Linked DNA regions of Homo sapiens. The protein of the gene in region 3 interacts with the protein of the main gene of each other region in a pairwise test. Each region holds a gene or a part of one and is shown on either strand. Other genes may lie near its edges. The genes, in order: KRTAP3-2, FHL2, POGZ and DAB1.

Region 1 (5,077 bases), on a different chromosome or scaffold from region 3:
TCTATTATAATCCGATGTGGATTTTGTTAAAGAATCTTACATGTTTTATTTCTCTTGCATATTTTGGGTTTATTTCATAACTGTGCTCATTAAGCTTCTGGTTTCATTAGTATTGAAGGTTCTATGATGTGGTAGGAAAAATTGGGCTTTAGAGTCAGACATACAAGAGGCTGAATTCTGATTTTCTAAGTAATTAACTTTATGACTTTCAGAATGTTGAATAACGCTTAAAACTTCATTTTTTCTTATCCATTAGTGCTGTTTTAAGGACTAAATCAATAATTTACTGGTGAAGAGTAGATAAATAAATGTTGGTTCACACCAAAATTGCACTTGTCTGAGGAAGAAGAGAGAAGAGAAGGCAAACATGAAAGAGAACCTGTTAAAAGTTAGCAAGCCATGTTAGTAGTAGCAAGAATGTTAGTCATTCTGCCAATAGAGTCTTCTTTAAAAGATTAAAATAATCATCCTGTTTTTACCTTTTTAAAATGGAAGAAATATACCCAAAACTAACATAAACAAATGACACATCTTGCCAGAGAAATATAGTTTATTGGAAAACCCACCAAGAAATTTTCTTCTATGAAAATACCCAGTACAAGAAACAAGAGCCAGGAAGCAATATGATCAAGAACATGTAATCTGAGGTCTTAAAGATTGAAACAGTATTTTGCTAATAAAACTCATTCACCTGCCCACAGGAACCAAATGGTTTTTCAGCTAAATAACCATAAAAAATACTTTTCTTTTTTTCCCCCATTAAAACCAAAGGTAAGTTCTTCATATCTGGGTCATCTGGTCTACCTTAACATCTGGCAAACTACTGAGGCAAGTGAATACTGAAGGGACAGCTTCTGGATTCTTCGTTGTCGGGCACTGAGCAAAGTAGCCATCCATCAGCAGCCTCTTGGGAGGCAGGGCTCACAGCAGGGCTGAGTGAAGGTGGTGAGGTTGAGGGTCTCCAGGCCCGGAGTTGGCTGGCAGGAGTTGAGCAGGAAGCAGGTGGGCACGCAGGGCTGAGGAATGTGGCAGGGTGGGGGACAGTTGTCACAGCAGATGGGCTCCAGTAACCAAACTGTGTGTGGGCAGGTGCTGGGCAGGCAGACTCCACAGCGGCAGGATTTGTCGGAGGAGCAGATGGTGGTGGCAGGCCCAGTGGGGACACTGCAGCTGCGAGAGGCACAGCAATCCATGGCAATGGGCGTCTGGTTAGCTTTCAGTTTCTTAGATGAGGATTCTGAGGTACAAATGTCTCCTCTTTTGTTAGGGCTCTTATATACCCTCCCAAGTGGGCATTGGTCCAACTGGAAGCCTTCCTGTTTTGTTTATGGCACCCTTTTTCACTGAGATTCTCTAATCAGTTTGTCATTTACATGTCCATTAAGAGTTCCCGCTCTTATTAAGTTAATCATATTTTTGACTCATTGACTTGTCATTTTTGTCACAAGATCATCACATTTTGTCTTCACAGGTTTCTGGCATGCCAAACCTTATATGACTTTTATGGGTAATCAATCCAAGTGACAATTCAGCTGTAATTTTGGAGGCCAAACTCTTCTTGTTTTTCCCTCTTAATTTAAAATACTATGGATAATGTGATTTCTAATGACTAATTTCAGAATGAGTAACTCAAATGATGAACTGGACCATTTTCAACTCAATAAAGTCAACAAGAATATGGCTATTTACAGATGAATGTTTCATGTGACTACAGGCATCTCGGACATGTTTGCATTATTTAGTGATATTATAATTCAGGTTCTATTGAGCAAGCAAAGTGGTAGAATGGTACAGGATGAAGAAACTCCTTTTTATTATTTTTATTAAATCTGTAGTGAATTTCTCAATGTTGTATTATTCTATGGATTTTTTTTTTCTAAAATAGTCTCTATTCTCAAAGTTATGCCAATCTTGTGGTGAATCAAAGTATAAATTCATTGGAAGGAAGGATCCACACAGTGGCCATTCTTTGTTGAATATACCACTAAAAGAAAACCACCTCAGCCTTGATTCATTTTCACATGAATGGTGTACATACTTTAAAATAAGATGAAATAAGAATTAAAAGGAGAAACCACAAGAGTCACAGAACAATCATGGATTTTGGCAGGGAATCTGACTCAATGCAATTTAGAACTATGGCATTCATAAAAATCACTTTTTCACTGACTTACTCCCTACTTTGCATGTTTATTTGTTTTCATACCTTGGATCTTGAACTAGATTGAAATTCCTTTGAGGTATGCCTTAAACAACATTATTTACTTAAGTCAGCCAGAGATTGAACTAGATAATATCAAATGTGTAATATTCTAGATTCCAACATCTTCCTACACCTGTCCATGATCAGCACAAATCCTTTCAGATAATATTGTATAATTTAAATTACATACTCGTTATGTGGCAATTTGTTGACTTAACAGAAAGCAAAGATTCCGGGTAGGTTGTTTCTGAGGGGACATTACCAAAAACCAGTACGATCTACTTAAAAGAGAAGAAAGCTGGCTAAAATCAGTGGAAAATATCAAATGTCATTGGTAGGTAAGCCTTATACGTTATACGTTAAAACAACCAGTTTATCTTTTTCTTTAACAACAAAAATATGTGGTACATATATGCCATAGAATACTATGCAGCCATAAAAAATAAGGAGCTCCTATCCTTTGAAGAAACATGGATGGAGCTGGAGGCTATTATCTTTAGTAACTAATGCAGAAACAGAAAACCGAATACTGCATGTTCTCACTTATAAGTGGTAGCTAAATGATGAGAACGCATGGACACATAGAGGGGAATAACAGATGCTAGAACCTATCAGAGGGTGGAAGGTGGGAGGAGGGACAGGATCAGGAAAAATAACTGGTAGGTACTAGGCTTAATACGTGGGTGATGAGATAATCTGTACAACAAACCCCCATGACACCAGCTTACCTATGTAACAAACCTGCACAGGTACCCCTGAACTTAAAAGTTAAAAACAAAAAAACAGAAAACAGCTTCAAATCATTTTTATTAGCAGGAATTTACAACAAATGCCAAGGGTGTCGAACATCATACTGTTACCAGATGGTGCCATGCAGTTCCAGGCTTTTGGTGTCCCAAAGAATTGGACGAGACACCCACAGCAAAACAAAGAAACAAAAGTGTATTAAGCACAGTATTACACTCTAAGAGGGGGAGAGCAAACCAGCCTCTGTGAGATGAGATCAGCCCCCAGCTTGGTGCAGTTTGCGTCTTTGTGTGTGTGTGTGTGTGTGTATGTGTGTGTGTGTGTCCCTTCCCAAGGCTGCCTAATCTCTAGCCAGTGTTTGCCTCTTTGATTGACAGGTGTGTTGCTTAGTTACTTTGGCCCCTGTGTGCTTGCGCACCACCTCCAGCCCATAATTTTAAGTACATACATGATATGCAGTCCATATGCATAAGCCTGAATGAGCTGATTTTCATACAAGGTCATGTTAAGGATACGTTTTCTCTTTAATGCACATGCTTATCCATGAAGAGTTGCCCCTTACTGGTTTGGTCCTTATCTTGCCGGCCATGGGGGCCTTGCTTTCTTCTCTATCTTACTTTTTGTTTTGGCTGGAGTGCAGTGGCATTCTCTGCTCACTGCAGCCTCTACTTTCTGGGATCAAGTGATTCTCCTACCTCAGACTCCCAAGTAGCAGCTGGGATTACAGGTGCCCGCCACCACACCCAGCTAAGTTTTGTATTTTTTGTAGAGAGGGGTGTTTCTCCATGTTGGCCAGGCTGGTCTTGAACTCCTGATCTCAAGTGATCCACCTGCTTCGGCCTCCCAAAATGCCAGGATTACAGCATGAGCCACCGCGCCTGGTCTAACTTCTGCTTCTTATCTTGCTTCTTGCTTACCTGCCCCTTCACCTTGCTTCTGGTCTCTGCTTTTATTCACTCCACCCTTTATCCAAGTTTTAATTCCCTTTGCTAGTCTCCTGCCTCAATACCTGCACTTTACCACTGAAGAACAGATAAGCAAATTCAAGTGGCTTTCCCAGTATATTATAAAATTCAAAGTTAATGAACTAGTATTGAAATCGTCAAGGAAATGTTTAATGTTTACTTACTCTTGACTTACCAGTCTCTCTCATCTAGAAGCCAGTGGCTTGGCAAGTAGAATATATGAAGAAGACCCTCTCCCATTCTCTGTGTTCTCTCTGACTTCTCTTTTAAAATCGATTTTGAAATATTATATAGATTCAGGAGATCTACTGTACAACATGGTGACTATAGTGAATAACCATATATTGCATTTTTGAAAAACGCTGAGAGAATGGATTAAGTGTTCTCATCACAAAAATGATAACTATGTGAGTCACGCATATGTTAATCATACAGCACATTACATAAAGTGAAGGCGGGAGTCTCCTAGGTACTTTACCCTCTGTGACCTCGTTCATACTGTTTCTTTAGCTTAAAGTGACCTTTCCCAATTCTCTAGTTTCCAAATCCTGTTGATCCCTCAAGATTCAGCCAAACATCCCCTTCATAAAGAAACTCTAGGTGATTCTTCTAGATGTTTGCATCCTTTTCTCTGCTCTCACAAAATGGGCTGCCTATTCTTCCCTTTCAACCTCATTTCTTTCTGCTATATTTTGTAGTTTGTCACTTAAATTTGTTTTCCTCACTCCAATGCAAGGTTCTTGGAAGTGGTAATCGTATGTTAGTTTTATTTGTCTTTTTCAAGCACCTAGGACAATGCCTGAAACAGGGTAGGCATTTGATAAATATTTGTTGAATTGGATTACATTTCAGATTAGAATTAAAAAGGTATTTATTTATTTTTATAATGGCCTTTTATAACAGTAACACTTTATATAAAGAGAGTGATTCATTTTTTGTGTGAATTGCTTTACAGTTGTCAAAACTTTTTTTTTTTTTTGAGATGGAGTTTTGCTCTTGTTGCCCAGGCTGGAGTGCAATGGCACGATCTTGGCTCACAGTAACCTCTGCCTCCCGGGTTCAAGCCATTCTCCTGCCTCAGCCTGAGGAATAGATGGGATTACATTCATGCTCTACCATGCCCGGCTAATTTTGTATTTTTAGTAGAGACGGGCTTTCACCA
Region 2 (7,053 bases), on a different chromosome or scaffold from region 3:
AGTATAAAGAGAAGTGTGGCATAGCTCCGATGAATTCCCATGGAGCATGACTTTTGGAGTCTAGGGACTGTATTCACCTATTGCACACCTGATAATGAACACCCCGTCTGGTTCACAGCAGGATGGAAATGGCTAGAGTGTGAATGAACCTGGAACCTCGAACCTGATTCAGTGAGCAGCCTCTACAACACTCACTTTACATACTGCCTGTTGAACCAAGTTGTGATGTATCTAGGTAGTTTTATGCACTGTACTAAGTGCTATAATTAAAACCTACATGTAGTTTTTTTTTGTTTTCGAGACAGGGTCTCACTCTGTCACCCAGGCTGGAGTGCAGTGGTGCGATCCTGGCTCACTGCAGCCTTGAACATCTGGGCTCCAGGGAAACTCCTGCCTCAACCTGAGTAGCTGGAACTACAGGTGCACACCACCATGCCTGGCTGAAATCTTCATGTGTTACTTGTACATCCCATTTAGTAATTGCCTAAACCTACGCCATCCATTGTCTTTTGAATAACTATTAGCATTTGATACATTTCTACCATTTCTCCAAGTGAACTGAGGAGCTCTAGAGAACTGAAACACTTATGGGTCACCCCTGCCACCACCAAGCTGGACTCACTGCAAGTGCTCGGTGTCTGTTGACTGACATTTTTTCATTTTTGTTTGCCAGAAAGAAGTGTATCTATTTATAGTAACGGATGATTCCAGATAGGCGTATAAACAAGTACCCTTCATATAAAGCAAAGGTAAAGAACAATCTGGGGAAATAAGTATCAGGGACAAAGAAAGAGGAAAGTGTTGTAAGTGCCCGGACTAGCTGAGGGGCCTGGCCACTGTGTAAGACCAAATCCAGACTGCTGCCTGCTTTTCAAATGAAGTTTTATTGGAACACAGCCACGCCCATTAATTTACTTCCATTGTTTACATCCGCTTTTAAGCTAGACGGCCGAGTAGTGTGCAGCTGTGTGCAGTTGTGCAGTTGTTGTGTAGTTGTAATAGTTGAGTAGTTGTGACAGAGACTGTATGGTCCACAAAGCCCCAAATATTTATCTGATTTTTGAAGGAAAAATGTTGCCAATCCCTGGGGACTGTGGCATGAGGGTCACATACATGTGACTTCAACTGGGGGTCAGGGAATGATGGGGAATCAAGCCGACAGAGGGACTGCCCCGCTCCAGACCAGGTGGAAGCAGCTGCAGTAACACAGGTGGCTTATAGGAGTCTATAGACTAGTCCATAGCTCTCAGCCCCAAAATCTTATGGTCCCAAGGACAAAGCTAGGGGTTGTATTTTAGCTGGCTAGAAAGTTGGTCATGAAATGTCTGTCCTCCAGTAATTAGGAATGTGCTGAGAATTATCACGATTGTTATTTAGGATCATTTTCTCAGCTTCCTGTACTTCCAAGACCAGACATTTGAGATTATATAAAATAAGCAGGGTGTGTGTTGGGGGGCAATGTGTGAGAGGGAATTTGGGATGGTGACACGCAGCGATCTTTTAATTCAAAACTAAGCTGTACAATCTATGGAATTCAATTGTGGGGTGATGAATCCTAAAACAAACATTACATGAAGCAATTGAAATTCAAGTAAAAATAGTGGAAGGACTTTGAATTCACAAAGATTTTCTTCAACCTCCATGCATACTTTTGTCACTTGCTCTTTGGATCTCTGACATTCATTCTGATCAAGCAGCCCAGAAGCCAAAGGATTTTGCCAATGAATATGGGGCAATTATGACTCTCATGGCATTCTTGTCGAGTTCTGAAATAAGTCTGATCAGATCAACACCAGTTCGAGGGCAACTCTACGTGCAGGGAATGCACAGGGCACCTGGAGCCTCAGGGACATGGCGCGTGCACCTCAGGCATGGCGACAGCAGTGGCCGCAAGCCTGCATGGTCATATGCAGCAATACCGGCAGGTGGCAGGAGCGTTCCTTCTCCTAACTGAATCGCACACTCTGAACCAAGTCTCCCGCAGGCGGAAGCGCAGTCTTGAAGAAGGGATGTCTTAATCTGATTCAAATAGTCAAATGAGGCTGGCTGCGGTGCCTCAGCCTTGTAATCCCAGCACTTTGGGAGGCTAAGGCGGGAGATCTCTTGAGCCCAGGAGTTGGCGACCAGCCTGGGCAACATAGAGAGTCCCTGTCTCTACCCCCCCAAAAAAAAAATTAGGCGGGTGTGGTGGTGTGTGCCTGAGGTCCTAGACACGTAGGAGGCTGAGGTGGGAGGATCATTTGAGCCCGAGAGGTCAAGGCTGCAGTGAGCAGTGATCGTACCACTACTCTCCCGCCTGAGCGAAAGAGCGAGATCCTGGCTCAAAAAAAAAAAAAGTCAAATGAGGAGCCAGAAATTTGGTTGCAGGGTTGGAGACAGAATCGCTACTTGAGTCTGCTCAGAGGCTGTGGTGCATCTGTAAGCAACGTCTGCTAATAGGGGCGCGAGAGCCGGTAAACCCCAGCACTGGGGTTACTGATGGTATTCCAGTTTCCTGATTGGTCATCAGGAAACTGACTTGTGTGGGGGGTGTGGAGCTGGTGGGTGAGTTTTTCACTTGTCCTCTAAATGTAAATTCACCGCAAAAGCTGTGCACTGACGCTGTAAACCCATATTCATCTTGAATGGGTTCTAACACTTTTAAAAATCAAACCCAGGCAAGCAAGTGCTTTGATTCAGTGTTTTGTCGGTGCTGGTTTGTTTTGCATACACCGGGATTCTTCTAGACGCCCTGCCTTTGGTGCCCAGTCCGTTTCTTCTGGCAGAGGCACCTGTAAAATGGGGATGAAGCCATCCAACCCAGGGAACACCGAAGATTCAATGGGATTCTGTAAAGCAGCAGGGTCTGACGCCTGTGTGTGTGCTCAGGGGCTGGAAGCTGTAGCTGTGTTGTTATTATTACTACACAGCATTTCTTACCACAGAGCCTGAATTCTTGCTTCCCCCATTCCTTAGTAGAAGAGGCTGCCGGCCAGTTAATTCTCAGATATTCAGTATGGGTTACCTCTCACTGAACATTAGGTTTTTACTTCTTATCTGATCATGTTTTTCTTTTCTTTCCCTCCCCAGTAAACACCATGAGAAAGGGAAGGTGTGATGGTTAATTTTATGTGTCAGCGTGGCTGGGCTCTGGTACCCAGTTGTTTGGTCAAAAAACAGGTTTACTTGTTGCCGTGAAGGTGTTTTTTAGATGTGACTAACATCTAAGTCAGCAAGCTTCGAGTGCAGCACGTTACCCACGTATCAGGGCCGGGCTTCATCTAATCGGTAGTGGGCCTTAGGGGCAAAGACTAAGGTTTCCCTAAGGGCAACTAATTCTTCTCAAGACTGCAATAGACACACCCTGCCTGAGTTTCCAGCCTGCCGCCCTACGGAATTCAAATGCTCCCATTTGGAACTGCAGTATCATCTCTTCCCTGAGCCTCCAGCCTGCTGCCCTGTTCTATAGATTCCAGACTTACCGCCTCCACAATCTCATGAGCCAATCCCTTGAAATCTCTCTCTCTCTCTCTCTCTCTCTCTCTCCTTATGTATGTATCTATGTGTATACATTTCCTTGATTGATTCTGTTTCTCTGGAGAACGTGACTAACACAGAAAGTCAAGACAGGTGAAAAATTCAAAATCCGGGAAATATGCATACTTTTTATGTCATGGTTGGTGCTAACAGTTAAAGTCTTTAAACAGCCCCTAGAGTCCCCAGTGGAAGCTTCCTTGGGCCCTTGTTCAGGAAACTAGTAAGGGTTTAATTTGTTTTTCAATTAATGTCGTGGTTCTTATTGTTACTGAGTGTTGTGTCTCTGCAGTGACTCCCTGTGGGGCAGGACACAGGTCAGCCTGGCTTTCTACGGGCTTCAATTCTCATTTGCACTGTCGCACAGCACTGGGGCCCGAGTTTCCAGCCTCTGCAGGATCCACATGATCTTAGAAGAGGCCTTCTTGCCTGGAGCTGCCCCATCTAAAGTCACCATGCAGCCCTTCCAGCTGTTTTCCCTTACAGCTGCCAACAGGGCTGGGACTGTGTCAGCCTGGGCATTTTTCTTCCCTGTCATAGTGTGTCACAGTTGTTTTAAAGTTATATTAACCAGAGAAATGTAGTGGCAGTAAGAAACCATCTTACCAAAGGTCAGATTACCTCCTTGCCTTTTTAAAAAATGATTATTCCTTATCCTACATAACTTTCTTTTTTTTTTGAGACGGAGTCTCACTCTGTCACCCAGGCTGGAGTGCAGTGGCGTGATCTCAGCTCACTGCAAGCTCCATCTCCTGGGTTCAGGCCATTCTCCTGCCTCAGCCTCCCGAGTAGCTGGGACTACAGACGCCCGCCACTATGCCCGGCTAATTTTTTGTATTTTTAGTAGAGACAGCGTTTTACCATGTTAGCCTGGCTGGTCTCAAACTCCTGACCTCGTGATCCGCCCTCCTTAGCCTTGCAAAGTGCTGGGATTACAGGGGTGAGCCACCACACCTGGCATCCTACATATATTTCTAAACTATTTCCCATATGTCAGTCTCTTCAGTATTTCTTTATTATCAAAAACAAAGCAAACCAACATGATGAAACCCCATCTCTACTAAAAATACAAAAATTAGCCAGGTGTGGTGGTGCACGCCTGTAGTCTCAGCTACTTAGGAGGCTAAGGCAGAAGAATCTCTTGAACCTGGGAGGCAGAGGTTGCAGTGAGTCAAGATTGCACCACTGAACCACATTGGCCAGGCCGATTTCAAACTCCTGACCTCAAGTGATCCACCCACCTCAGCCTCCCAAAGTACTGGAATTACAGGTATAAGCCACCGCACCCAGCTTCTTTCTGTATTTTGAAATTCCACATATTTTTGTCCACTTTGCTTTTTAAAATAAAAGATTCTGCTCTCCTACATAAAAAACAAAACAAAACAAATAACTCCCCCCACATACACACACAAAAAAACCATGAGGGACACAGTCCCATCAACACACAAGGCACCTTTATTGCCATCCTCGGCACCTGGCCCAGTTGCGGCTGTGCCCTTTTTGACTGTCCGTCTAGAACACCAACTCTACAAGGGCAGAGGACCAGGTGCACCTCGGCTCACACCCTACGAATGCTCAGCTCGAGCCCAGTGCCTGGCACGCAAGGGCACCATGCACACTTGGTGAAATAACTGAATGAGTACAAATTCAGCAGGTAGAAGGGAAGAAAAGAGAAACTATCTATGGTGGTGGGAGAGTGGGGGCTGATGCAGGAGATGTATTTTTAAGGGGGATACCCACCATTTTCTTACTCTAACAATTTGACTGCATAACACTGCCCCACGTGCACAGCAAAAAGATCCCGTTACTGCCCATGATAGAACCTGTATGTCCCTGCTTCGTAAGTACTCTAAATACTCCTCTGCAGTTCAAGGTCAAACTGGAAAGTCAACACGAGTGTCTGGAACCAAGTCAATGTGAACAGGGGGTCAGAGGAACGTGCACAAGGCTTGAAGCTAGACTGGCTCACGCATGAGAAAGGAGTGCCTCCTGACCTGGCATGATGGTCTTCTTGCATTCCTGGCACTTGGATGAGTACTCGTTGGAATAGCAGTCTGTACAGAGCAGCTGGTCCTCCTTGGCAGCAAAGGGCTTGTCCACCAGTGAGTTTCTGCACTGCGAGCAGTGGAAACAGGCTTCATGCCAGTGCCGGTCCTTGTAAGACAAGTCCTGTGGGGCCAGACCACACAAGACAGTCAGAGGCAGGACAGGAGGGCTTGGACCCACAGCATAGGGGCCCCTTGCGAATCTGCAGGGCAAACAAGGAAAGAAGTTGGGCCGAGGCACCCTGGCGCACCCACATTCATGCCCCAGGACCACCTAACTGCTGAAATCAATTAAGACTAGGCTGCTTTTCTCTTGCTGCATTTTAGAGCAACAGGTTAGACAGATGTGCATGTATGCACATGTCTGTGTGTGAGAGATGCTTCTAAAAAACAAAGGGATTTCCCTTATGTATTGCCTGCAAGAAAGAGAAACAGAAAACATGAACACCTATCAATTCGTCTCACACCACATCCGGTGACAGAGAAACAGACTGCAGGACATCCTTGGCTGAGGGAGCCCTGCCCAACTCAGATCACTGTGGTCACCGGCATGGCAGAGAGGCTCTGGGTGTCGGGATGTTCACAGGAGGCCCAAGGACTGTTTGGTGGGAGACGGTCAGGAGAGACTGTGTGTGTGGGTGCTACCTCTGTGGGTGGCCGTGAGCTGGGGGAGGAAGGGAATTTCAGGCAGAGAAAGAGCACAGACACAGAAGATCTGGGGACGGGGGGCATGTCAGATTGGAGGGACCACAGGCCAGGGGCGAGGTGGGAGGGCCCCCCGGCCTGGCTGGACTGGAAGATATGGCTGCCTTTTTGCCTTTTATGTCTGTGTAGAGATTCCATTGATCCTGAAGGCAGTGGACAGCTGCTTTTCAACAGGAGAGTGAAGTGCTCAGACTGGGGGACGGGTAAGGATGTGGGAGTGGAGGGGCGTGAGGGTGGGAGAAGTGAGACAAAAACTGAGCACACATGAGAGAGGCCCTGAGAAGACAGACGTGTGCTTTTGAGTAAAAGATGAGGGAGAGAAAGGAGCCCCGCAGAAAACTCGACTCCACACTTGGCTTCATCTTGCCTGAGGAATAAGAGAACCCTCCATATTTGCCTTTTAAAAATGACATACGGCATTTTTAAAGTGCCAACACAAAATTAAAATAACAATCTCTTTATGCCCAGCTTTATCTTAGAAAGGATATGTTTCTATTGCTGTCTTTGTGTTCCCAGCTCTGACCCCAAATCATCATCCATTTATACATGAGGCAGAAACAGAGTATTAGGCTCTGCACGGTTTCCTGGGCAGGCTTCCAGTTGGTAGGTATCCTGAACAGGGCACAGGAGGGCTGTTCACGCGATGGCCCTGAAGAAGAGCCTGCCCACGATGTCTCTGTTACTGAAACCGAAGTCGAAGCTGGAGTTATGCTGAATGTAGGATGTGAAGACATGGATCTTGGCCTTGATTAGAAAGTCCTAAAACACCAGCTAACTCGGAACCAAAACT
Region 3 (5,324 bases):
AATGTTGGCTGTGATTTTCATTAAAATACCACTTTAAAAATAATCTAGTAGAACTATTCTGCATCAGGTTGCCCTCAAGTCAGCTGGGGCATCAGCCATCCCTGGAATGGTTCTAAACCTGAATATTTTAGAGACAAAAGTCTCATTCTGTTGCCCAGGCTGGCGTGCAGTGGCATGATCATAGCCTACTACAGCCTTGAATTTCTGAGCTCAAGCAACCTCCTGCCTCAGCCTCCCAAGTGCTGGGATTACTGGCATGAGCCATCATGCCCAGCTTGAATTTTTAAAATGAACACTGTAGGCGATTCTGACACAAATCCTCTCCAAACTTCTTGAGAAAGAAAATATAGGCAGCAAATTCAAAGTACAGAAATTCAGTGAGAACTGAAGGAAAAAATAAAACCATCCCTCCATTTGCATTGTCCGTTAACAACAAACTTGTAAAGCCAAACAATGAGCTTTCAATCTGAAACCTCCACACATTCAGTCTCAACACAGGAAACAGTCAATAAATACATGTTTATTGATTAAACTGAATTATAAAAAACAAAACCAAAAAAAAATTTCCTTCTACTACTAAGCCATGCAGGCAGAGTCCACAAAGACAACTTCCTGGCCAAAACCCAGCTGATCCACTGTTGGTATAATCTTAAAAAAAATTACCCATCAAGAAAGTCAATCGTGTGCAGAAGACAGGAACCCCAGCTCTGCTAAGGCTGTGGCTGCTGCAGAGACTACCAAAGAGTAGGATTAGGTTGTAGATAGACGTGACCAACCATAGTTCTTGAACTTTCTCAAAGGCAAAGGCTGACTTCAAAGTCCATTGTCTGTCAATAAAATGGCATCAGGCAAAAAGCTGGGGAAGAGAAGCCCAGATGGATCCTTGGTTGTTTTCAGATGTCAAAGGTTCACAAAGCTGGCCAAGCTGTTTCTGGAAGGGACTTTTCCAGTTCACTATATTATAGTGTGCTGGGGGATGAAAAAACAAACAAACAAAAAAGCAGGGTGGGGTGGGAGAAATGGGTGGTAACAAATGTCACACCTGTACCACCAGGCCCATCACATCTTGAGCATTCCCCAGTCTGTGAAAGCCTATTAAACAGGGTCACCTAGAAAAAAAACAAGTTTATAAATCCATTTCCCCTCATTTTATTAAATGTTCCACTTATGTACATTTTAAAGACGAACCATTTACAAGCTTGTGCAGTTTGCCTCCTTGGCTCACAGGAGGGGAACATTGTGGAAAGCCTCAGGATAAACAGAAGACTTGGTTTTTTGCTCCTTTTCTCTGTACGGTACAGTACGTTTTGGTTTACAACCATGAGTACATACAATTAAAAAAATCCCTCATGCAAATTGTAGAAAAAATTTTCTTTCCTTGAAGCTGGCAGTGAAAAATAAAGATTCATGTCATTTTCTTTGTGCACACCCCTGTGCGCTTCTTCCTGTCAGATTCTTCCCTAAGTATTAAGAGAAATAGGGGAAAGCCACAGAGCACGCTGGATTTCAACAAGTGGTCTTGTCTTTTTAAAGTTCAACACTTCTTGAACAATTAGCTCCTGGCTGTAGGACCAGTAATCCCTTAAACAGGCATGCTCTCCATCTAACAGGATGAAGTTCAGTAAAGCAGGGACTGCCCCTGGGGGCTTACAGGATGAAGACTCAAACTGGGAATGGCTTCCACCCTAAAACTGTTTGATCGCTTCAGTATCTCTTGCTTGCTAATAACACCTGTATGATCCTTTGTCCAGAGGGATGGATGGTGTTGAGAATGGGGAAAGGGGCCAAGGATCACAAGTGCAAAAAATATTGTTTATGTCATGTTTTGGAGGGAAGGTGGTGAGGAAAAGACAAATCTATTCATTCTGGATAATTAAAGGTGGTTTCATGCATTTTTAAAGCCACAATTTTATATCTAGGGTTGCTGTAGAAACCAACATCTCTGGAGAGGGAAGGAAAGAAAAGGAGAAGGAAGAGAGAGTTCAGTGGGACTTTTTTTCCATTTTCATTTTTATATAAAAGTGTTAAGACCACAATGAAAAAAGTTTTTTATCCATATATATAATAAACCAGTTTGTGAGCTACATAATTTGTCTTTCCCATCTTCAGAAATGTTCTCACATTAACAATGATTAGATAGCATCATGCCCAAAGACATTGGCCACACAATAAAACAAACAAAAAAACCCAGTACTATGATACAATTGAGGTAAAAGGGGAAACAAAAAAATTTAACATTTGCCCACAAATAATTTTTTTTCTTTTTCTTAATTTTGTCAGAAAAATACCAAACACAGTGATTTAAATTTAAAAAAAAAAAAAGTCACAAAAACCTGTTTTTAGCAGAAGTGAATGACCAATGGGCCAGCTCCTTGGCTCAGACGTGATTACTATTGGTTTTCCTAATTAATCCACAAATCCACAGGGAAGTGTAAGTCAACTTCAGGGGGGAGTGGTGGTATAAAATTAAAAAATAGAAACCAAATACCCCACCTGGTATGCCCCCTTTTCCCTAAGCCCCTTTACCCTCCCTCACATGTTCCCACCCTCACTCCACACCCCCTCATGACCCCAACACTCAAATCTCCATCAGATCTAGGTCAGCTTCTTCAAAGCCATAGAAAGACTCGGTCTCACTTTCACCCTCAAAGAGCTGGTGAAGACTTTCAGGCTCAATTGTCTCTTCAGGAGATGATCTGGGTCGTGGAGTGGAAGACTCAGAATGTTCCCCACTCAGCTTCAGTTGCTCCTCTAGGGAGGCAATTAGCTCCTCCTGCATGTCAGCATTTCTTGTAGGTGAGTTAATGTTGCCATCGGGGCCAGGCAGAACACTAGCCACCAGGAAGGAGCGCTGAACTAGCTCTGGACAGTCCCCAATGACACCTAGCACTTCACCCAGCCAGACAAGCACCAGCTGAAGCAGGACATCAGAATCACATGCAGTATCTGCCATTTCCCGAGCCTGTTCCTTCCATTTTTTATGCAGGAAGTTCTTGACAGTTCTTTTGATGCATACATCTAATGGCTGAATTTTGGAGCTACAGCCTGCTGGGACCACTGCAGGCAAAGTGCTAGAGGCACTAAGCATAGCCAGTACCTCTTCTGACAAGTGAGTGCGATGACAGTCCATCACAAGCATGCCTTTGCTGCGCTGGCAAGCTGTGTGCTTCTGCCACACTCGAGTTGACCACAGCTCCATGATCTCGTCATCACTGTAGCCACTCTCCTTTGCCTCTAGCAATATGGAGTCTGGCATGTTAGCAGGCTGATCCATCTGCCCTCTGTAGAAAACCAGGGTGGGAAGGACAGTGCCATCTGCCAGAATGGCTAGGACTACATCACACCAAGGTTCCCCTGTGCCCACTGTCTGCAGGGCATTCTCCTTTCGATCATCACTGCTCAGCACCTCTGTATCCAGGAACAAAGAGATCTCATCAATAGCCACAATCATAGACAAGGGTAAGTCCTGGTTGTGAATCTGCCGTTGTACAAAATCAATGAAGAGTCCTGCATTCTCTGCTACATCCTTAGGTAGGGTGTGGGCCACAGCTCGCCGGGCATGGGGAGTCAGGTGGTGCCGCAGCATGAAACGCACAGCCCACTCATAGGAGATCTTAAACCCCCCTTCCAAAGAACGTCCTATTTTGGTGGCCTTCTGGAACAAGGTCTCCTCATTTACAGGTAGCTGTTGTTCGCGCTGGGTTAGCACCCACTCAGCCAGTTTCTCTTCTGCCTCAAAGCTCAGATATTTGCCCTCTAGATTCTCCCCCTGGGAGGCCTGGAAACGTCGAAGCCAACGGCGAATACGTCGCTGGGGATTTCGGAAGTGTTCAGCTGCCTGTTCTGTATTGCAGCATAGAGCAAACAGTACTACTCGAAGCTTCTTCACAGACAGCTGCTCCTTTTTGCCAACTCCACCACTACCACCACCACCTGATGCTAGCTCAGGTTCTTGGGTGACTGGGCTCCCTTCATCCTGATCATCAACATTCAGACATTCGGCTCCCTCTGTAGCCAGCGGTGGAAGGGCTAAAGCCTGCGGGTGAGTGGGGGTTGGTGGTGGGGTTGCAGTTGAGGCTGGTGATGGGAGTGCTGGGGCTAAGGGAGTTAGTAGCTCTTCAGGCTCAGCTGGGGTGGCCCCCGCAGATTTCACAGTGGCAGCTTTGTTAGTGGGGAAGGAAGGAGGAGGGTACATATTCTTCACGTTCCGGTCATGCACTCGGTCACGAGTCTGGCCATGCCTAAAGGGGTGAGGAGCAAAGAGAAGAGGAGAAATCTCAGTTCAACTAGGAAATTGAAACAATAATATGATAATAATAATAATAATAACAGAGTAAACACACTGCAAACCAGAAATTAAATTGTGAGGTGAGTTTTTGTTACCTTGAGTGAGCTATCCAAGTGAGTCCTATGGAAAATGAAACAACAAAAATAGTTAGCTCAGTGAAAAAATAAGCCCTCCAAAGACAGTGCCCTGGGATTCAACTTACTACATACAAATACGCTGTTCGCAGTGACCAGCTTTCCCAGTTTTATATAAACTTCAGGTCGGAAGGTTTCTAATTAGGTCCAGCACATCTCAACAGTGAATGAGTGAGGCCAAGTAGGTATGCTCCTGATGCATACAGTACGAACCTGTATCTTTTTTCCTCCCCTTGCTCAACTAATCCCCTTCTCTCCTACTTACCCCGTGGCAGGATGCTGCTGGATCTGTGAGAGGGGTTGAATACCAAATGCTTGGCCATAGCATCGCCCACAGAGGTAACAAAGGTACATGAAGTGCAGGCCAGCTTGATTCCACTAAAAAAGAGAATTGAGACTATGTAAGACAAACACAGCAGTGACACTTGAGACCATTAAGCTTTGAGGCTTAAGAAAGAAAAGGAATGCCCTCCCACTTTCTCCTTTTTCTGAAATTAATTCACATAACCACCTCTCCAAATAATGAAAAACCTGAAAATTAATGTAAAAACCTGAAAAATTAAGATGCTGCCAATAAGTTTTTTCTTACCTCACAGAATTTTTAAACAAAGCCAAATACTTGGGGCTCTTCCGTGGAACATGATTGCTGAGAAAGACAAAGAAGTGGTATGAGTTACGGAGTTCTGCTGGCTAAGCTAGAGATCACCAGCCAGTGACAATGCCCCCAACAAAAGAGACACTTCTTCAGTGCACCCTAATCTCAACCTAAGCCAGTTTTCCTGTCACCATGCTTCTTAAACTTTAATATGCATACAAGTCACTGAGGATCTATTAAAATTCACATTCTGGTTCAGTAGGCCTAGGGCGGGGCTGAGAGTCAGCATTTCTAACAAGCTCCCACC
Region 4 (7,000 bases), about 94 Mb from region 3:
AGTGAAGATGCTGTGAAGATTGTTGAAATGACAGCAAAGGATTTACATAAACTTATTGATAAAGCAGTGTCAGGGTTTGAGAGGACTGACTCCAATTTTGAAAAAAGTTCTGCTGTGGGTAAAATACTGTCAAACAGCATTGCATTCTATAGAGAAATCTTTCATGAAAGGAAGAGTCAATCAATGTGACAAACTTCATTATTGTCTTATTTTAAGAAACTGACCCAGCTACTTCAATCTTCAGTAACCACCACCTTAATCAGTCAGTAGCCACCAACATTGAGGTAAAACCCTCCACCAGCAAAAAGATTATGACTTGCTGAAGGCTCAGCTGATCATTAGCATATGTGAGCAATAAAGTATTTTCAATTAAGGTATGTACATTGATTTTTTTACATAATGCTATTGCACCCTTAACAGACTACAGTATAGTGTAAACATAACTTTTATATACACTGGAAAACCAACAAATTTGTGTGACTCACTTGATTGCAATATTCTCTTTATTGCAGTGGCCTGGAATGGAACCAGCCGTATCTCCCATGGATGCCTGAATTTATTTAATAGTAAGCATTCAAAAACACCCATGATTTTCCTCCTCTCCTGACTATTTGCCATTTAGAATAAGAAATACAGGTAGCATATGATGAAAATTAATATATAGCTAGAAAATATAATTTTAAAGATAACATTTACAATGGCAATTACAAAAATATAAACCACCTAAAACTCAATCTAAAAAGAGTGCATGCCCTTTGAAGAAAATTATAAACTGTATTGAAAGACATTAAATAAGAACTAAATAAATGGAAAGAGTTACTACATTTACAGATAGAAAGACTCAGGCTCAATGTCCTAATGATGGCATTATCTTTTAATCAGTCTATAAGTTTGATAAAACTCAAATCAAATCTCAACAGTATTCTTGTGAAACCTTGAAAGATGATTATAAAATGTATACGGAAGAAAACAGCCCAAGAAAAGCCAAGACACTCTTGAGACACTTTTGCAGAAGGACACTTTTAGGGATGTGTCCTGGCCAATACCAAGATTCATTAAAAAGCTATAATAAAGTTTGGTTAGGGCAAAAGAGTGGCTAAAACATATGCTTAGAAATTGACTCTAAGTTCCAGGAAAATCATTTTTCCATATGAAAGAAAATTAGAATAAATGCCTACCTCACACAACACACACACACACACACACACACACACACACACATATATGCACACACTCCACATGGATTAGAGAACCTAAATTTGAAAGGCAAACAAAACAATAAAGCTTTTAGAAGACAACAAAGGAGAATATCTTCATGACATCAGAGTGGGAAAAAAAAGGCTTTCTGAAACAAGACATAAAAAGTGCTAACCATAAAAGATTGATAAATTCAACTACGTTAAAATTAAGAAGTTAGATAGCAGAAGGTTGGCAAAAATCCAACTTCTATGTGGTCTATAAATCTATTCAGCTTCCCAAAGGCATAAATAACCTTTTTGCATTTATTGGAACTATATTCTGACAACACATGCCATAGCTCAGATTCAGCATATGGTTGGCCCATCTTTGACTTTGTCCACAATTAGATTACTAGCACTACTGGTTTAACCTGAGTATATTTGAATGGATGTGGCTTATACCTAGAACTTTCGTGAGTAGACATATAATACTGCTCAGAATAACATGGCCTGCAATTCAAGACAAGCACCACCACATGCCATCATTATAGGTACTGCTACACCATCACCAGGGACTAGGATTGTACAGCATCTCTTCCTTACCCTCTGTGCAGCGTTTTTCTATGTTTATGATCATTCACACCACAAAGTTCATTCTTGTTCTGCTAACTGCTGGGATTTAACTGCTACTACAAAAACTACCAGGAGAAATATATATCAGTGAAAGCAAGGATAGAAAACCCTAGGGTAGATCAACTTCTAACCCCATGAGAGAAGGTAATCTACTGTCTCCCACACAGCCATGATTTTGTACCAAAAGCTTCCTCCGGTGAGCCTGTGAGTCTTCCATTTCCTTTCTCCTCTCATTCATTCTACCATGCATTCTTCACCAATATTCTGCCATTCACTCTACATGTTGACATATATACCATAATATATGAATATAGTCTGAGACAATAAGAGAAGAAAATGTCACCCACATATGACTTATGTTTAAGGTGATGTAAATTTTTTCAAGATGTCCCTTGCATATATCAAAAGAGATGCTTCTGTTGGCATGATAGTATCTAATAACAACACTCTGTTACTGATGGGAAGTTATTTCTTGGGGACCCCAAGGAATGGAACCTCATAAACTTTCAATGCATTTCATGTCAGGGTACTGAGTAATTACATAGCATTACAATTTTAAAATTTCCTCTTTGGATGAAAGCAGTTTTATTTATAATTTTTCCTATAATGGAAGTAGATAGCTCTAGTGAATCGACTGTTTTAATAGGACAGATTTGGATAAGTAGTTATTGTTAATGATTTTAAGAGATGTCAATAAAACATAGAAATGACTTTCAACAGATAATTATTATAATTCACTCCCAAATCTAGATTACAAAATAAAGAATCACAATAAAAAATGATTTTCAAGTTCACTGATCACAAAGAATTTCAATATTGTCTATGGAAAACAATTTACCCTAATCTTTTTACCCAAATTAACTTAATGAACCACAGCAGACTGAACACATTTAATTCAATTCAATTAAGCAGAAACTTATTGAGCATCTACTACATTCCAGACACCGGAGTTAAAAGGGACAGCTATATTTCCTTTCCCTAAGTAGTTCATAAATGTCCTTTATTCCAGTATAATTATTAGGCAAAATACTATTTCTTTCTTATTACCTATGTAGTGACTAGCTAGACAGTTTATAAATGTCCTTTATTTCAGGAAAATTATTGGACAAAATACCATTTCTTTTTATTATATATACAGTAATGAGCTAGAAAGTGAAGAGAATTCAGTGGAATTGTTTAGGTTTGTTCTGGAAAAATATATTCAAAAGAATTATCAAATTTAGGATAGTGACTATGTCTGCCAAGAGAAGGGGACGTATGATCAGAGAAAGGTTACCAGGAGGTTTCAACTGTATTTAACTGGCTTTATTTCATTAGCTGAGTGGTAGGTACAAAACTTTTTATTATATTGTTATTTATACTTTTTGTGTGTCTTAACCCATTTATGCCAGAGGTTGCAAATTGTTTTTTGTGAAAAATGAGACTTTGGTGATGACCTTGAGCAGTAGGATATAAATAACGCCCACAAGCTTAGCATTCCAATAAAGGAACACTAGGCATAAATGGGTTAAATATTCTGTCCTACATTTCAAATCACACACATATTATTTTCATGATAGAATGAAAACTACTCTTAAAAGGCTTAAGTGATTCTCTACATTTTTCCCAATCTATTTCATAAGACACTGAGAGATGCTACTTGAAATCAAAGGTTCTATGGCAAATGAATTTTTAAAATTCTTCATGAGTTAAATGACTTTAGTGCAGAAAATCTCTGAACCTTTAACATATCAGTAAATACCACATCTTACTAAGAACAGGATATATAATTCAATATCTTCCAAACATTTTTGAACATGGAACTTATTTTTCCCTCTGAGCCTTCTTCCTTTTGAAATATTCATAATGATCTTAGGGGACATTAGTGTTTCCTGGGACACAGTTTGGAAAATGCTCTATTAAAAAAACCCATTTTGATGCATGTTCTACATTACCTCTGTACCCAATTATGCCCATCCCTAAGTCAATAACCATCCTTCATGCTTGCATGACTTTGTCCATGAAGTCCTATCAGTCAGAACTGCCTTTAAGCCTTGAGAAACTCCTGGTCAGCCTTCAAGACCTAGGTGAAATGAAGCCTTCCCCCAGCCTTTCCTTTCTCCAGGTAGAGTAAATTACCACCTCCAGAAGGTTCCACAGCTGTATACATATTTTCCATAGCGCATCTCCTGCTGTAACAGTTATTTATGCATGAAACCAGGTCCCTAGATGGCAAACTGTGCAATTGCATCTTGGTACTCTTCACAATGCCTAGCACAGAGCCAGAGTCAAGCACAAAGTAGGTGCTCAGTAAACATTTGTTGAATGGACATAGAAGTGATGTTTATGTGCATGACCAGAATGTTCTTCCTCAATTTCCCAGATTCTCTCAATGCATATTCACAGCTTTTCAATTATTTTCAGTTGCAACACTAACATGAATAAAAACAAAGAGACATAAAGACTGAATGTGACAAAGGCAGATAGAAACGAGGAAAGACAGAGACAGAGAAAGAGCAAAGAAAGAGATACCTGAATTGATGGATACCAAGTAAACAAATCATGAGTCCATTCAAGAGATGCAGAGACTGACCAACAAAGAAAATTGTAAATCAATATGAAGCTCGGAGCAGATGCATGGGGTTGGTAATTTGCAAGACTCACTACAGGTGGTCAAGAGGGCCGATTTGGGTTCATGCTGAACTACTTACAACTATTTGGGAGGACCCATCCCCTTATTTTTATACCATAAGTTAAACAGCCCGCCTTCACCACCACAAAATTTTCGTCATTTTAGCTGTCATCTCTTCTATTCAGCAGAATTTTATTTATATTTTCCTTTCTGTTTATGAGACTCCCCCACTGGCATTGCAGATTGGTTATATGTCAGCTTCAAATAAAATAAAATAATAATAATAAAAGCAAGCTTGCAATTTCTTTCCAATAGAATATGCTACATATTTCATAAAATAGATGCCAGAGGAGTTTTATGATTCCTCAACCAAAACCTTCCCACATCTCAAAACTAAATGGAAGAAAAATAAAAAGAACATGTCAAAGAAAAAGAAATCTGAACATTTGCTCTCCAATCAGAGGGAAATATCCAGGTGATTAATTTGATTAATGAGTTGTTTTCATTTTTTTACATGAATTTATATCCTGATATGCATTTCACAGATTCAGTTCAGTGTGAGTTTTCATGGATATAAATGTACATACCAGAGGAGGGGTTTTCTTTTCCTACTGACATGCTTTTTTCAGTACAGAATGTCTAGCTGGCTCATGCTCTTAGCCTGACAACACCTCCTCTGCCAAGTTTTATTTATATTTTCAAGCCACGTCTCTATCCTGGTATAGGAGACAATCTGGTCTAGTGAAAGGAGCACTGGACAAGGAGTCCAAGAATCCTGAGTTGCGATGGCGCCTCTGGGCTGTAAAGTTACGTATCTCTGCAAGCCTAATATTCTTTCAATCTGTAAATTAGGACAGTTGACAAACACACCTCTAGAATTCAATCAAAGTCATTTTACTTTCCTCAGAATAACTGCGGAAAAGTAAAATGGCATGGAAATTTTAACATGATGTGTACTTCCACAACTCCTCTTCACAAAGAGCCAAAATGTGTAAGGAAATATTTCCAATTAAAAAAAAAAAAAAAAAACCTTTGCCTAAAATCCTAAAATGTATCTCTTCCTAAAGATAGACCAGATACTATTGGGATACATAACTCTCAGAATATCAATGATGGAAAACTTTTTCATTATCTAGGAGATGGGTTTTTATCTCATTTGAAAGATAACACTAATAGCTAAGTAACTTTACATGCTAGGTATTATTCTAAGCACTTTGTGTTAGTTCCTGTAATCTTCATAATTTTATGAGGTAAGTACTGTTATTTCATTATAAAGAAAACTATAAAGCACAGAGAAGTTAGATTAGCTGGCCAAGGCCACACAGCTTACAGAGCTGGTAGAGCTGAGATCTGAAGCCAGGCAGTCAGTCCAGAAACGAAGTCCAGACTCCTTACCACCTGCTATACCACCTTTTAGTTTGAGAATCTCTGCTTACCACAGCTAGTAACTGAGAAAAGCAGTAATGCTGTTTCTGCGTTACTAATTGCCTAAACAATTATTTACTAATTGATTACTAATTGTTACCTAATTAATAAACATTTTCACAGAGTAAATAGATGTGAACCAATACTAACCAATGCCTGATAGAAACTGCCACAGAGTCACAAGTGTTCAAAGTGCCTATCATTGCCCCACTCCCTGTTGATGATAAGGTAACACCCATTTTGTTTGCTAGCATCCAAAAATGGGGAAATATGTAGCTTGCTCCTATAGAAGTCTTACTATTTCATTATTCTCCATTAAATTTTACACCCTGGGAGCTAGCTGGGATCACTTCCTCACTCAGAGGCAGCATAACAGTGGTTAGGACAGACCCTGGAACAAGAATGGCTAGGTTTAAATCCTAGTTCCATCCCTTACTTGCTATGTAATCTCAGGCCAGTTACCAAATCTTCCTGTGCCCCAGTTTCCTTATCTAGCTAATACAAATGAGAATACAAGTATCCACATCCTAGGGTTATCTGAAGATTAAATAAGTTAATATGTGTAAAGTGCTTAGAAGCATTCCTGACTCTTAGTAGTACTCCATAAAGGTTAATTATTCTTTTTTATTAACATGAAAGGTGACTTGCCAAACATCACAAAGTCAGAAGTAGCTGGATTCAATCCTGGTCTTCCAATTCCAAATGCCATCCACTTTCTTGAACAGAATTCCATGCTGTCTATTACTAAGAGATCATTCTCTTGAAATCCTGCTATGTGCCAAAGCACCCAATCATATGATTTTCTCCATAAAATTGCTCCAAGACCCACAAGGTAGGTAATATTGTCCGTTTTGCAGATGATGAAAGCAAGGTTCTGGGAAGTTGAGATTCATCCTCAACTGCTTAACTCAACCACGAGTATTCTTTGTCTCAGTAAGTCCTAAATAACATTTAAAGTTCCGGACAATACCCTTCAATTTATGCTATTTTTAAAGTGCCATCTAAGAGACATAAACTGTGATTTTCTTGCTTTGTTTGCTTTATTAGTTTGAGAGAAGGATTAAATCCCAGCAAAAACAAAATGTTTGACTTGAGTGAATTATCAAAATGAAATGCTGCCTCCATTAGATTCTTCATCTGCCTGCAGGGTGGC

The links.
Region 1: the proteins of POGZ (region 3) and KRTAP3-2 interact in binary tests that used the Homo sapiens proteins (3 or more experiments, as listed by UniProt).
Region 2: the proteins of POGZ (region 3) and FHL2 interact in binary tests that used the Homo sapiens proteins (3 or more experiments, as listed by UniProt).
Region 4: the proteins of POGZ (region 3) and DAB1 interact in binary tests that used the Homo sapiens proteins (3 or more experiments, as listed by UniProt).

What each region holds. Positions count from the first base shown.
Region 1 is NC_000017.11:40,998,661-41,003,737, forward strand, and holds KRTAP3-2 (keratin-associated protein 3-2), read right to left. Parts: upstream 1,247-5,077; 5' UTR 1,194-1,246; coding exon 897-1,193; 3' UTR 533-896; downstream 1-532.
Region 2 is NC_000002.12:105,368,052-105,375,104, forward strand, and holds part of FHL2 (four and a half LIM domains protein 2), read right to left. Parts: intron 5,683-7,053; coding exon 5,508-5,682; intron 1-5,507. UniProt on the Homo sapiens protein: May function as a molecular transmitter linking various signaling pathways to transcriptional regulation. Negatively regulates the transcriptional repressor E4F1 and may function in cell growth.
Region 3 is NC_000001.11:151,402,224-151,407,547, forward strand, and holds the end of POGZ (pogo transposable element with ZNF domain), read right to left. Parts: intron 5,069-5,324; coding exon 5,012-5,068; intron 4,801-5,011; coding exon 4,688-4,800; intron 4,409-4,687; coding exon 4,384-4,408; intron 4,242-4,383; coding exon 2,579-4,241; 3' UTR 501-2,578; downstream 1-500. UniProt on the Homo sapiens protein: Plays a role in mitotic cell cycle progression and is involved in kinetochore assembly and mitotic sister chromatid cohesion.
Region 4 is NC_000001.11:57,414,061-57,421,060, forward strand, and holds part of DAB1 (disabled homolog 1), read right to left. Parts: intron 1-7,000. UniProt on the Homo sapiens protein: Signaling adapter of the reelin-mediated signaling pathway, which regulates the migration and differentiation of postmitotic neurons during brain development.